Regions from separate parts of the Homo sapiens genome. Here region 1 is linked to region 2. The links come from fine-mapping of genetic effects on gene expression. A gene starts in region 2. The other region holds a variant in brackets. All regions are shown on one strand. Distances are between the middles of the regions. Region 1 has its middle 150 kb from the start of PPARGC1A. Region 2 holds the start of PPARGC1A (PPARG coactivator 1 alpha).

The links. PIP is the estimated chance that this variant, and not a neighbour inherited with it, causes the effect.
Region 1: its variant is fine-mapped to the expression of PPARGC1A in fibroblasts (GTEx, PIP 0.96).

Annotation. Positions count from the first base shown.
Region 1 is chr4:24,039,109-24,047,108 of GRCh38, forward strand. It overlaps a transcript of PPARGC1A not described here. Among named protein-coding and RNA genes, the nearest start is that of PPARGC1A, 150 kb to the left of the region's middle. The variant C/T (reference allele first, on the strand shown) is at 3,147.
Region 2 is chr4:23,886,487-23,894,486 of GRCh38, forward strand. PPARGC1A (PPARG coactivator 1 alpha) reads right to left here and starts at 3,561. Exons shown (of 13, transcript NM_013261.5): 1 at 3,418-3,561. The coding sequence starts at 3,471. RefSeq lists an enhancer at 1-236.

The DNA.
Region 1 (8,000 bases), 150 kb after region 2:
CAAAGCTTTAATGTTCCCTCTATAACTGTGAATCATCGACAAATCCCAAGTAATTTATTCGCTTTCCAATTGGAAGCATATCTTAACGGGATAAAAGTCAGAATGTGCAACACTCCTGATAGTAAACTTGTCCACCTGCTATACAACATAAATTAAGAAGCTATACTTTAGTGATTCAATTACACCACCGAGTAATTGAAAACACACAATTGCAAGGAGTTGAGGTTCTTACGAGAAATATAATGTCTGCATTCCAGATTCCCTAGTATTTGATTTATAATTGGAATATTGGCATAATATTCTACATTTGGGAGGAACTGCTCCCTTCTGGATAGTTCTAGAATGTGAATATTTAAGGCTACAAAGAATCTTAGAGCTCATATTGCTTAATCCCTTGCTTTATGTATGAGGAAATGGAGCCCAAAGATCAGTCAGCTTATAAAATGCAAAGGGAGGTCTCAAAAAGAGGCCTCTGATGCCAAGTGAGAACATCTAGGATGATGGTCAAATTCATAATCTCTGGAATTGGACAAAACTCAACCTCAGTGATGCACAAGCTACTTAATCTTTCTATAACCTCATTTCTTCCTCTATTAAAGAAAGATGGTAATTCCTAAAGCAACTTGCCACAAATGGAGAACAACTCCTAGAGTTGCTTATAGAAGTATGTTCTCCAAAATGCTTAGTGTTAAGCATACGTAAGCACTCGATAGAAACGTAGCCACAGCCACTGCTGCCACCACCACCACCACCATCAACATGATCATCATCACCATCATCATCATGTCCAGTGTCATTTCACTGTATCATTTCATAGCTTTCATTTAAATGCTATTGACACTCTCAATATCTAACCAACCATTTGGCCACAACATAGCACTGTCACTGTTCCACAATAGCCAGGATATCTCCACATCCCATCCTGAAGACAGTATACATATACAGTATGCTTCTCCAGTTTGAACAACTGAATTTCTGTCTATTTTGAGGACAACATGATAACCAACCAATAGACATCCAATACTTGATTCATTTCCTGGGCTACACACTGACTAGGTATCTTTGCATTAGGTACGACATCATCAGATCAGTTTTCCTATGCTACCTGTTCCAATCCAGCCACATACACACATCTTCCATCTTAGCCCTGTGACTATTTGTAGACTCTGCATTTTAATGTGCAAATATTTTAAAAAGCACAAATGATTTTTCTCATCACTGACCTCCATTCTGTCTCTTGACAAAGGAAACCATAGCCTCTTTGAAACCCAAAATAAGCAGATGTAATCAAATGCTAATTTAGCAATAAACAGAAAATTGACTTCAAAACATCTCTCTGTCACTCTAATTGATTAACAGTCACATGAAAATTGATAACATGATTTTCAGCAAGAGAGCGTGTGGCACAAGCTCTTTGGTTCTATTGGCTTCGGATATTGACTTCCTTCCAAATAAAGCTTTTTAAGAGTACATTAGTGAGTCCACTAATAAACTTAAAAAGCAGTCTAATTACAATAATGAACTCTGTACAATGAGTTAATGCAACACCGGAGCTTACAGATCTGAGTCTTTCGCTGAAATAAAAACAAACTACAAGTTCTGTTGAATATAGTGCAACCATAGTTTTGTTTCAATAGCAGGGAATAAATTACTATTTTTCCTCCTTGCTTTTCTAACATTTTAGCAAAATGTGCTCATATGCTATCTCCTTTCCTTAAACGTTTTCCCAACATCCATATTAATTATCTTAACATGAAATTCATTTTAAGCTGCTGATTCTCTCATGTTCACCGGGCTCAATTAGAAACCATCCTTTAGAAGTAGAAGACTGAAAACATGCAAATAGAAAAAGCTGCATTAGTCTAGGATGTGACTATTTCTAAACTGCTCAAGTTATTATAGGAGAACTTGGCTACAGTTCATCTTGGCAGTGGGAGAACCGACATTGGGATTATAATGAAACATGCTAGCTAGGTTTCCCTGTGCAGGGAATTCTCTATTTGCTCTTCCAGATCTATGCTTCACCCTTCTCTATTGCCTGTGCCTGGGAGACTGACCTTTAAAGATTGTGTCAATGGGCTTTCTTGCCTTCCACATCTGATTAGGTTGAGATATTGGAAGGCACTAACAATAGAGCCAAGGTCAAGAGGAAAATGAAGTGGGACGTTTTCCCTCCAACTCCTCCCTGCTGGGCACAGTTTAGAAAGGGCTGCATTTCTCCACCAAAGGCTACACTCCTGAAGTATTCCCTCTCTAACAGTGATAGCTTTCCCTCTCTTGAGTTCTGGAACTAGCTCCCTCCGTGGCATCTTCAGGTCCAGGTGGTCCTGGCCTCCCACTGTTGCTAGCCCTAGGGGAGTCATCACCTGCTGATTTCTTTAACCCTTCCCATATCTCGAAAATAGTCTCTTTATTAAACTCTAACCCCATTTGTATGTGCCATCTGCTACCTGCCAGAATCCTACAGATATGTCTACCTTCTATTAACCCAGTGGTTCTTTGCCTGTTGAGGGTTACACACCCCTTTGAAAGCCTAAATGAAAAGAGTATATAGAGATCATTCTCTGCAGAAAATGCACATAGTCACAAACATGAACTTTTTGATACAATGTCAAAGATTCGACACACACCCATGAAGCACATACATGGATCCCAAAGTATGAATCCTACTATGGAAAAGTGATTTTTAAGAAAACAGTTTTTATTTTCAGGAGTGAATTATATGGGTAACAAGTTGTTCTTTAAAGAGTCCTACTTTCAGGTGTCAGATTGTGAGATATGAGGTTATCAGAAGGCATCCCACCAAAAAAAAAAAGAAAGAAAAGAAAGAAATCTCTGAATAATCAACCTAAAAATATGACTGTATATGGAATCTTTAATTTTACTTCTTTCCGTATTTCTCATATTATGTATTTATCACATATACACTCAGAATGTGTTTTCCACCAGTCATGGTTTTACCTCCTTGTAAAGTTTATTATTAATCATTTCAAGTGCCATCTGGACAACTGATAAGTAAATGTCTTCAAAAATCTCTGAAAGAGATTTCTTAAAGTTCTACTGTCTACCAGCCCCGCTCAGCATTCCCATGCCTGATCTCCAAGGATGCCAATATGTATTCAGCTGTTTTTTATTAACACTGGTGG[C/T]TTCATAATATTAAAAAATGTATACACCAAGTCACCCCAATAGAAAACAGGCATGGATTGTGATGCAACACAAATTCCACTTCAAATAGTCATCCTCTCTGCCTAAATGCCTTCTCTGTAGTCCAGAATGAGCATCTTTCTATAGATGAAAGAAAGCAAGCAAGCTGAAGTCCAACACTCCAGTGAGCTTGAATCTCTTGAGGTCTCTATCAGTGGCTATTAAAATTTAAAGTGTACTGCATAATCCTTGATTCCTGAAAACACATGCTACTTATATTCCTTAAGCCACTGACAGCTTAAGCTATTCTGTGTGGGAACACAGAGGGGAACAAAGGAGCCAATGCAATAGATACCGGACCACATAAATGTCAACTGAAGACCATGTGAATAAAAACCTTAGGTGATGTCTGCTTTCTCATGTCAGTCATCTTAATGACCCAGTAGTTAAAAGTCACTTTTTAAAATATATACACTTGTTTAAATATCATGATATAGTGTATATAAATGCATATGTGCCCTATGGGTATATAAATTATTCTCTTTTTTAGGCCAAAAAATAAGATTGGTATAAAAGATTCTTAATTTTGAAGAATGCATAGATACATAAACTGCATCATTCACATAGAGTATTAGTAGTGAAGCATCTCTCTTTATTATCTGACATTATTTTCTTTGTTAACAAAGATCTCCTTGATTGTTTTGGTGACTCTCATTAACAGCAGTAATCAGCAATACCAAGAGAGTGCCTCAAAATTTGGTTTTTCTTTCTCATGATGACCTAATCTGTCAGGAAGCTACCAATTTTGTAGGCAGCTATTTGGGATCAGAAAACTGGGGTGCCTTTCCTTCTTCCTTTCCCCACACAGGTCCTCTCCTATGGAATCAGGAGATGACTTTTGTTTAATCTTGAAAGAATAAGTGGGCAGCTAAATTCAGAAGCCCAAAGAAGGGTTCCCTCCTTGCTGTCTCCAGCTCACCTATGTCCCCTATCCCGACGCCATCCAATACACTGCTGCCAAATTAATCTTACTAAAAGCACAGTCCTGATCATCCCCCTTCCAACTCAACTTGTTCAAACTCTTCGAGTGCTCTTCATGCCCTACTGAAAGAAGAAATTGTTTGAACTCTACAGCCTGAGACTCAAAACCCTTATTAGTCTGGCACCGGCTTTACTGTAACTTCATTTTTTCTACTCCGTGTTACTGTGGGTTCCAGGTGAATTACATCCTCATTCCCTGGAGGATCATATTCATTATAAACACCCCTTTTCTCATCTTTTCCCTCTACCAATACAGAATGCCTTTCCTTGGGCAGTTTAAATGTTACCTCATCGATCGCATGTTATGATATCTTTTCTATACCTTTCTACCCACTGCTCTCCAGTCCAACCCCAGTAATTTATCTGGTAATAGTTTATCTATTTGTAAACTATTAGATTCATTTTACCTAGTTGTAAAATGGGGTAAATAATGTTAGGTAACTAAGAGGATTGTATATACAACATACTTAAAACATAGCTATGGTATTTGTGGTAGTTGTTGCTTTTATCTTAAACGGGTTACTATATAGCAAGAAACTTGAAAATTGAATAGAATTTTGTTTATTTTTTTTGTCCTCCACTGCCCCTACCTGCCACAATATAAATAACTTGGAAAGACATGGAGGAAGGACATTTGAAAGAAACCACCTGTCCTCAATTCTGAGGTTAAGAAAGAGCCAGTGGTTTTGGCTTCTGAGTATATCATCCATGTAGATCAATGTGGCCTGGAAATGCCATAAGTGTACGCTGGCTTTCACTTAACAAAGAGCGTCAAATTGGGTCACTACACTACCACTAATTGCATTCTAAGAGATGTCAACCGTAACGCCTAGGCTGAAGCTCCTTCAAGAAGATGGCAGTTGAGTCTAAACAAGAACCCCTGCTGCCTTTACCAAAGGAACTGAGTCTGGCTTTTCCACAGCCTCCTTTTCAGCTTTCCTGAGCATTCACTTACATAAAAAGCAAATGAGACGCCACTTTGTCATCCTGGTCACAGTTTCTCACAAATCCTTCGTCTTTTAAAAGACCTTGAGGGTCCGATTCTAATCTGAGTTGTACCATAATGAGTCTCTTAAAAGAACCGTTCTGATGCCTGCAAGCACAGCAAAAGTATTAGGAAATACAGCATCATTAGTCAAAATCATGGCGGATTCACGGATTCACAGAAGCCTCTGTAGGGTCAGAGCAGCCATTTTGGAAGTGTTTGAGGAAAGAATGCATGCTTCCTAACTACCCACCAGCATTAACGGGTTTCATTCTGCCAAAAGATGGCGTCTTTAATCCCAGGTTTGGCATGAAAAATGTGGGCTTAGGCATATTGAACTGCTCTGCGATATTTCAGACATCATATACATTCAGCTTGCAGAACTTCTGAGCCATAAGAGCACTGGGTGCATCTCAAAATGGCATGTGGTGACAGAGAGTTCCACCAGAGCACAGGGCACCCAGTTAATTGGCAAGGCTGGTCACTGGGAAGCACACTGCACCCTCCAGCAGCTGGCAGGCCACTTAGGCAACACCCAAAGAAACATTTTAAGTGGGCAACAGTCCTTAAACCTCCTTGCACACAGCTCACATGACAACTCAGAAAAACTCCTTATTTGCACTTGTCTTGCACTTCTGGGCGGTGCTCAGAGAGAAAGAAAGGTGAGCCTTTCCACCCAGGCAAGTATTTTAAGCCCTACTGAGCACAGAAGCTCTTGGGGGAACTACCCACAGCCAGCAGGGTCACTGCTTCCTAATTTCCCTGGGTGGTACATGATGACTCAGCAAGAGCCTACATCCTAATTCTTACACAGAAGAGATCATTCTAGCTCCAGGAATGTGTGCAGGTGCCAGAGGCCCTCAATATCACTCACTGCTATGTCAACTGGTGCAAGTTTCTTAATTCATCAAGCCTTTGTTTCTTCTCTACTGTGGAAATGTGATATGAGAATAAGTATAAAATAGTTTTATAATATTGTAATATAAATATATTTTTAAAATCAGTGATTAGTTTAGATGCTGAGCAAAGATACACCACCCTATCTCTGCCAGAACACTTCTTGTGTTTGGTACTGTCACATAAAACACAGAATTAGGTCCCTAGGGGCGCTATTACAAAGTACCGTAAACTGAGTGGCTTAAAGCAACATTTATTCTTTCACAGTTATAGAGGCTAAAAGTCCAAAATCAAGGTGTCAGGGCCATGCTCTCTCTTAAGACTCCAGGGGAGAAATCCTCTATGGCCTCTTCTAGCTTCTGGTGGTTGCCAGGAATCCTTGGTGCGCTACTTGGCTTGTAGATACATCACTTCAATCTCTGCCTCTGTCTTCACATGGACTTCTCCTCCGTGTGTCTGTCTTCAAATTTCTCTCTTCTTATACAGACACCAGTAATTGGATTAGGACCTGCACTAATCCAGTATGACCTTACTCTAATTTGATTAACTATGAAAAGACTAAAAGACTATTTCCAAATAAAGTCACATTCACAGGTACTGAGAGTTAAAGCTTCATCACATAATTCAACCCATAATAAATACATTAGGCCTTTCCTGACCTCACAGTCTAAAATCAATATAACTACCAAAAACGGGCTACATCACATAGCCCAATCAACCAAAAGACCCCAAATACTTAGCAACAGTCACCAAGCCATGATATTATTTGTTTCTGGTGATGATGGCCACAGTTTAGTTCAGGTGCCAAACACAATTCCTACCACATACTAAGACTTCAATAAATGTCAAATGAACAAATATTGTGAGTACATGAACATGGACTATGTAGTACAGAAGATATAGAGTAACAATGTACCCTGAACATCCTAAAATAATCCTGATTATAAATATGCCAGCCCTACAACTTTATTTGAGCATGTCAGAACATATGTCCCTATAATGGTTTGGAAAGCAGGCTCACTAAAAGGAGTCAGGAAAACAAAAAAGCAATAAGGTTGTTTTGTTCATCAAGCACATTATTTCCCCCTCACAAGTTTCTTCTCTTCCTAGGTTTCCTCTCTTAGGAAATAATAGTCAGTAGTTGTTGAACCTTCTCTGTTGATTCCTGTCCTCTCCACTCCCATCCAGTCATTTGCAACCCTCTCCAAACTCTTCCATCTCTCTCAAAGGAGCCCCTTCTTCCCCACTCCCACTACCACTTCTTTGGTTCAGGCCCTCTTTGTATCATAAATGAGTCACTTTGTTAACTTGAATTTGGGGACCCTTCCATCCTTCTTCTACCAGACTGATTTTTTGCAATGCAAACTCGACCACTGACTAGCTTAAATTGCTTCAGTGACTGTCCTTTGTGCTCAGGATAAAATCTAAGATCTTTAGTATGTCCTGTGTGGCATGTGCTGTTGGCTATGTGTTCATCAAAACTCATTTCTTCTTCTCCTGGGCACACAGCTGGAGTTCACTGACTAGCCTTCATTGCAGTTAAGTATGACCATGTGAGTGGGTTTCTTCTAGTCAATGGAATCTGAACGATAATGACACGCACTATTTCCAACATGTTTCACAAAAATCTCTCATGCTGCCTCTCAAGCCGTGTCTGTCCCCATATCTGCCACTTGATGCAAAGGTCCACCATAGAGTTCTGGGGCCCTAGCAAATGGCGGGCCCATGAGATGGAAGAACCTGAGTTCCTGGATTGATATTGAAGACTACCTGCTACATGAATGAGAAATTCACTCCTGTTGTGTTAAGATGCTGGCCGGTGGTGGTTGTTGATCACAGCTGCAAGCCCACTCTGACTGACAAACCATTGAAGACTCTGTTTTCTGGCTGCTACTTACCTCTCCTATTCCATTATTCATTCATTATCCCTTTC
Region 2 (8,000 bases):
CCCCAGTGAGATCCCTGGCAGCAGGGACAAGGGAATGCAAAGAAAGGGCCCTCCTCACCATCAAAACTCTTTCCTTATCATTTTATTGGTCTTTCCTTTTATTATCTGAGTTAGCCCAAAATTACAGATCAGTATACTTGACAAGGCATATAAGTAACTGGAGGCTGGGCTGAAGAGATCTCGTTCTGGTACAATGCTCATATTTGGTTGTGGATGTAACACTGCCCAGACTCCATTCTTGCCCACACAGCTGATCCTCCAAGCCCAAACACACTATCTTAACTTTTCCTCAATGTCACCAATTCAGAGATGGGGGAGAACTTTTTCAACGGTGCAAGATACACTAGGATTTTATAGGGGCATAGTCTTTAAAAAAAAAAAAAAAAAACATGAACAACAAAAATAGCAACACAAAAGTAAAAATAATCAAGAAAATGTAGGCTGTCTACATATGGCTTAAGTTCCTGTTGTGAAACTTAGGAACCAACCATGTTTTGGAATGCTAAAGTAGCATACTGATTTGTGGACAACTTCTTCCTGTCCCTCTCTTTAACTGCCCTCTTTGGCATGACTTGCTCATAACCCTTTAACCTTCCATAAATATGTATTTTTAAATAACTTTTGAAAACCATTGAAAAGACCAGGTCAATTTGTTGTATTGGTGCTATCTTGTCATTTACATATTCCTTTCCTTCCTCTCACTTGTTCGCTCGTGCGCTCTCTCTCTCTCTCTCATTTTGCTTTTATGTTATGGTTGAGAAAAGTGCATGTGTTCTTGCCAATGTTGACATGCTAATAAAATCTGTGCTTCTGAATGTGGCATTATCCTGCTAATCTAAAACACATTAGTGGTAGCAAGTGTTCCTGTTATTAATTTATATTTGGCCTTTGGACAATGCCAGACTTAACAGTCCAAGCCCTGTAACTGTCCTCATCTGACATGCTGATATTTACTGTTTCCCTATACCTCTGTAACAGGTGTGCTTTATTGCAATTACACAGACACATTCTACTGCCTCTTTGCAACTATGACAGCTATTTCACAACTGTAGCCTCAATTTTATAATAAGATTTAAGAGGATAAAGCAGTCACTAAACACAAAAGGCTAATTATTGTATGTTATTTCACCCCAACAGACTTTTCTCTTAGTTAAGGAGCAGACAATAAATTAGCTTAACTGCACTGATGATAATGAATCATTATAATTAAGTATAATTCTCCATTAACCTTTTGGAGGTTTTTGTGCCATTGATGGTAAATTTTAAAGAGAGAGAGAGAAGAAGGAGTGGACTTGGCCACATTAATTATATTAATGAAAAAAGAAACTGGGTTCTTAAAAAAATTAGTTAAGACAGGGGAAAGGGGGTGGAGAGAGGGGCAGTAAAGAATGACAGTCTTAGTGGGGTGTATGTCATGTGAATTGTCTCTATCAATCTTAGTAACCTTACTGTATATCACCTTCATTAAACTGTGAAACACGGGGCACTCCAAGTAGCTATAGTGATATAGGCCTATATTAACCAATGTACTACCCTGTCATTATGTGCAAAAGGGCATAATACGTTTTAGGATGACAGCAAACATTAATGATTCAAAAAATGAAAACTGCCAACGCTACCTGCTGCTCGTAATATTTTATACAGGCGGAGGTGATTCCCAGAGCCGCTGCCATGTAGGCAAAGCTTCTAGCAGCTAGCTGCCTATAGTGCAACAGAGAAGTGACTGGCCAATCTCAGCCGACTGGCGACTCTATCCATGGCTGGACAAGTAGCCAAGACCTTTCCTCCTTAAGAAAAAAATTTAAAGGCCACTATTCTAAATGCTTCTGATGTTTATTTGAAAATGACTGCAGGAATTCCAATGATTAAAATAAATCTTCCTTATTTCCATATGATCTAGTTCCTCAATCAACTCCTAACAGCATCAGGAATAATACATGATGGAAAAATGAAACTACAGCAGCTGAGACCCACAGTGCCAGCCAGACAACCACCCACAGGACACTCCGGCTACTCAAAGGCAATTAGGACTTTGAAGCCACTTATAACCCTGACTCATAATGGCTACAGGGCATATGAATTATCCATATCTATTCCGCCTTACCAAGAAATCAGAACAAGATAACAATTACAATCCACAAATACGATCTACCAAGGCAAGGGAGGGCAAATGGAGCCAACATTTGCAAACCCAGCAAAGAGTTAAGAATCCCGGGCATGCCTCGCTAGATAGGAAAAATGCATTCACAGACGGCCTTGGCCAAATTATTTTCACTTTAGATGTGTATCGCTGCACCACATGGACATCTTATTTAATCAAATCACGTGTGGGCTTGATCCTCCCCCTTACCCTACGTGCCCCCAGCTACCCAGAGGAAACACTCGCAGTCTTTTGCCAGATTCATTGTTAGCAGCTGGGATCCTCCATGCAATTCAATTCGAGTCCATCTCACCAGAGTCCACAGAAAGTTTTGCTTGTTTCCCAAGTTGCCCAAACTTTCCTTCCGAGAGCATTCCATTGTGCTGAATGCAAACACGCCGAGGTCCTCCGTCCCCCCACTAGACTCCAGAGATTACGAGGAAACTGCTTGCGTTATTTTCCCCCCTGTATGAATTGTAGCCAGCAGAGACTGTGGAATTGATGTATTGCTGTCTATTTTTACACTAGCAGCGAGCAGCTCCACACACAGTCCTGCATAAACTCTATTCTCTCTCAGCTTCAGGCAGCTCTCCGTGGTACAGGAAGATTTAACCATTGGCTTCCCTGCCACCGACGCGAACGGAAAACCTTGCACTGCCAGGCGTTTCTTTTTATTCGCTGGCCAAATCTTTCAACCACGTATAGGAGTTTTAAAGGAAGCAGCATCGTTGTTTTGTGTTCTGTGGGAAAAGCAATCTAAAATAGCCCAGCAGGATTATTTAGGATTTTGTAAGTTCTCTGTCTGATGAACAGAGAGAGAGGGGGGAAAAATCCGGACTAGAGTCAAAACGGACTATATTTGAACACATCCATTTTAATATTTTTATCTTCGTCTTATTATAAATAGAAATGGCATTTTTCCAACCAGGCCACTAAACACCACTGGAAAGACTTCAGCTTCTGATTCATATCAATATCTTAGAGCATAAATATTGCATATGAGTAGAAACAGTGCCAAAGTCACATGGAAAGAGTTTCTAACTGCAACAGATACTGATGACAGCAGCTAAGCTTTGATTTGCTCAAGCCATCTCAGAGCCACCTTAAAATAGCAAACTTATTGGAGTTAAGATAAGATTGAGATTCTTCTAAAAGCTCCTGCCTGGACTACTTTCCTGGCTCCTCTCTTTGCCCAAGCCCATCCCCCCTTACAGGAATAATAGCATCTGAGGGAAGCGTCAGTTGTGGCTGCAGCGCCGAGCCCTGCCCCAGCTCACCTCGATGTCACTCCATACAGACTCAGAGTCCTGGTTGCACATGTCCCACGCCATCCAGCTCCTGAATGACGCCAGTCAAGCTTTTTCAACTCCAATCCACAGTGACACAGAGCACACACTCATGCAGGCAACCAGCCCCTTACTGAGAGTGAACTGAAGGCACCTGTCTTACTACAGTCCCCAGTCACATGACAAAGCTATTAAAAAGTAGGCTGGGCTGTCACTCACCCAGCCTCCCTTCCCCTGTGCAGCTTGCTGCTCTAACTCGTGACGTCACTCAAAGGCAGCCCTCTGCTTCAGTGAAGTAACGCTTTAAAAAAAAAAAAAAAGAAAGAAAAAGAAAAGAAAGAAAGAAAGGAAACACTTAGACTTTTGGAGGCTTCAAGCATCATGCTGTGATTAAAGCCAGCTTTGAATGCCACAGACTCTAAACGGAGCCCTGGCCATATAATAACCAAAATCCCCTGCAATCTTTTTTTAATTTATTTTCCTTCCAAAACAAGCAAGTGGCAAAGCTCCCTGTTTCATGACAGAGTAACTATATTCTTAGCTAAAACGTGTATTCCCTAAGAACTCTTTAATTCTAAGATCTCCAAGTGGACTCAAGCTCAGTTTGGGACTAAAGCAAGAGCTTATCACATGATGCATTTTTATGAGACATTTTCTCATTGAGGGAGTGTTTGAAAGCGCAAACGGGGCTTTTTTTTTTTTTTTTTTTTTTTTTGCTTGTTTAATCAACAAAATAGCCTGTATGTGTTAAGGTATAAACAAACTCCTCCACCCAGAATTCGGCTGCCCCCATGGCAGTAGGGAATACCAGCTCCCGAAGAGTTGCTGCAGTTTTCTTTGCTCCATATAAGGAGAACAAGCCACAAAACCCCATCCTTTCAGCTTCCTTCTAATTATTTCCATTTCTCTCATAGGCTCCCAGAAAACAAGTGTTAGTAAATACAGTCGCTGCTGCTCTGCTCAGATCAGCTTTGATTCCCGGCTCCTATTTTTCATACATGTAGCGTTTCCTCCCTAACTGCCTTAGGGTGCCTTTTTGAATAAACATTGAATTCCAACCCTAGTGCCCTGGGTTGTGTAGTTTGCGTTTTGAAATCAAGAATGTCTGTGAACTGAGGGAAAAATACCAACACACTATTAGCAGAAATATTCAATTCCTGAGCTTTACTTTCTATTATTTTTCAGCTTGTACCTTGAGACAATGAGGGCTAATGCAGGTAGGTGCAACTGTTTTATGATGACACTACATATTGAATACATAACAAACTCAAGGTACTGGACACAGTGGAAAAACACTTCCTGTAACATGACAGTGGTCTGACTTAACCCTTCCAAGTTCCCAGGAGATGTACACGTGTATGTATCTGTGTGAATAAACATGTTTTCATAAAATGTTAAACCCAATATACTTTTAGAATCAGCTCAATTCTTTTACTTGATAATAATTTACCTGAAAACAATCCCCCAGTTACCTAAATATAATTTGTAAAGCATTATTCTACTGAGGTTAATTTACACTGTTCTTCATTGTCCATCTCCTTAAACAGAAAAACATGGTTATTTGCCCTAACACATATTTTAAATATTAAATTGCTCAAATATTAAAGTGAAAGAAAGAACAAAAGAAACAAAATACCAGCAGACTGCTGCTTCTTTCAGACCATACATATTATAAGAGATTTGTGTGCTGTGAGAGCTGCAACAAGTTGCTAGTAAATTCCCAAATAATGTAAGGAAGTTGACAGTTTATCATTACTGGGCATAAAAAGGTGGCCAAGAGCTTTGACATTTTAAGTTTGCTGAATACAGTTCACCAGCACATTTTCCCTTTTATAAACAGCAGAAAATTACTGTAGTTTTAATTTTCTAATGAAAGAACAGGAAAATACAACCTCGGGAATGCTTTTATACAAGCAATTAGTGGCATTACTCTGCACTCCCCACAAAGAAACACTAATTTTCTTCCCAATTATATTCTGATTTAATGTAAAACTTCAGTAAATTATTAAAATTCAGGACAAAGGTCATTGGCTCTGCCCTCAAGGATCAACTGTGAAATAATATTGGTCACCTGGCCAAGAAGAGTCAATGTTTATTAATTATTATCATGTGATTCTTCCATTGTGATATTCACTGATACCTTTATTTGTGTTTATCCAATGCTAGATATTCATCATATTTTTAAAACCTATTCACATCTTTTAGAGATGTTCTTTACATTAGAACAGGCTCGTTATAATTTTTGATATTCTAACCTGCCCAGATTGTATTGTTAGGGTTTTCTTATTTTTTGCCATCTAATTCTACTTCTAAAAAATCAAATCAGCACATGCACTGAAACCAGAAGTGATTTCAAATACACTTGTGTTTTCTTCACTCTCACTATCACAAAGAGGATGGAATTCAGAAGTAACAACATTTAAAAGACTCATAAACTACAGTATATTGCATTTCCCCCTCAAATTTCTATTACTGGACAAATCAAAATTAAATAGATTCCTAGGACAAATTAGAGTGCTTTCCACGATATTTTTTTTTTGTCTTAAAACTACAACTGTAATGAGAGGGATGTTTTAGAGGTTTTATAATTTTGTTAATTAACTCTTCAGATTAAATTTTTTCTTCAGTCCAGTTTTTTTTTTTTTCTTTTCTCAGGAGAACTTAAATGGTTCATTGCTCACCAACCTTGGTTTTTTTCTGGTTCCCCGGGCCATTTCTCTATTTAATTCTCTCTCTGCTTTGACTATTTCTCTTACTCTCTACCCACAGCCCTCCTTTCACCCCTTCGTCAACTCTGTCTCCAAAATTCCCAAATATCTGGTTTCAGACAACAAGGATCTATTGAAACCTTACTGTGTGCACAGCCATGTATCACAAGGACTGCCAAGAAAGCATATGACATGGACACAAGAGAGCTTACAATTTTAGGGGGATGACAACCCTTAAAAATGGGGAATAATTTGGTATGAAAAACCAACGTCACTTGGATCAACACCCAGATTCCTCTTCTACTGCTTAAAACACACCCTGGTGAGATACAAGTTCCTTTCATTGACCACTGCAGTTCACACCCAAATCAAACCCATTTTTTCTCAACAATAGAAAGAGGTATTTATTAACATCTGCTGAGTGCCCCCAATGTTGCATATCTACACAAAGCCTACATTCCATCCTGATAATTTCTCCCCTCTGTAGTTCTGTTAACATTTTCCAGGGTTTCAATATTAGTAGAGGCAGGAGAATCTATCTCGAGTTGCTAACAAAGAGAAAAAAAAAAACCTCAAGAGAATAATTCAATTCTCTAACAAATACGTTGACTGAAGTGTATAACATTTGGGTTTCCTTCCTCACTCCTACTCCAAATTAAAGGCTTTTCCCATCCCTCCATATTTCAGACAACTGCCCATTTCTAAAAATTAGAATCAAATTCAAACCCTCAAACTCAAAAACCTCAGAGAATAGCAAAAACAATTGGTTTTGTTGTCTATATTGAATATAGGTGATTTCAGAAGCAAACTCAGAAGAGCTATTAGGATAAATATATTTGTTCATTTGTTTTTATAAGTTTATAAGTTTTTATTTTAATAAAACAAACAAAAAACTACCAGACTGCTGCTTCTTTCAGATCATACATATTATAAGAGATGTGTCTACTGTGATATCTGCAGCAAGTTGCTAGTAAATTCCCAAATAACGTAAGCAAATTGACAGTTTATCATTACTGGGCATAAAAAGGTGACCAAGAGCTTCAACATTTTAAGTTTGCTGAATACAGTTCATAAGCACATTTTCTCTCTTACACACAGCAGAAAATTACTGTAGTTTTAGTTTTCTAAATCAAGAAAGAACAGGAAAATACAACCTCGGGAATGTTTCCATATACACTATTTATACAATAACTACATAAGAATATATGTATGCAGAAACTTCTCAAGAAAGAAAGGTGGAAAGCAAGACATATACAGCAGACCACGTATGGGCTAGACATTAAGATCAGCACTTCATATACCACATCTCAGTCAATTTAGTCCTCCAAACTATCCAATAAAAATGACCTGTGTACCCATTTTATGATGGAGAAAAATAAGGCTGGGCAAGGTTTGGAGGGCAGCTGGAAAGAGCATGCAAATCGCTGAAAGCCTTTCTAGGAAGAACTAAAGTTTCATCCATAAGAATAATAATCATCCTCAAATCAAAGCCATAGCAAAGACCCTGGAGGCAACTTTATAACTGAGGGACAGTCTACATAGCTGGAAACCAATATTCCTGGGAATGCTGCCTGCCTAGAGCATTCGTCCAGAAAGCAAAGGGGCCTGCCTAGAATTGCTAATATTTTTCAAGTTAGTCATTGTTAACAGGCATTCAATTGCTTGCTTTTAATTCCTAGAGGGACTAATTGATCCTGATACCCCACATCAGTTTCTAAACACATGCTTTGGGCCTCTGGTTAGAAGCAGAGACTGCATAGAACACAAAAGTTGGTAGCAGGATAGGATATAACAAAGACTTCTATTCTATAAATACTATAAAATTAAACCTCATTTTGCTTGAAAAAAATGCCACAGTGATGTCCA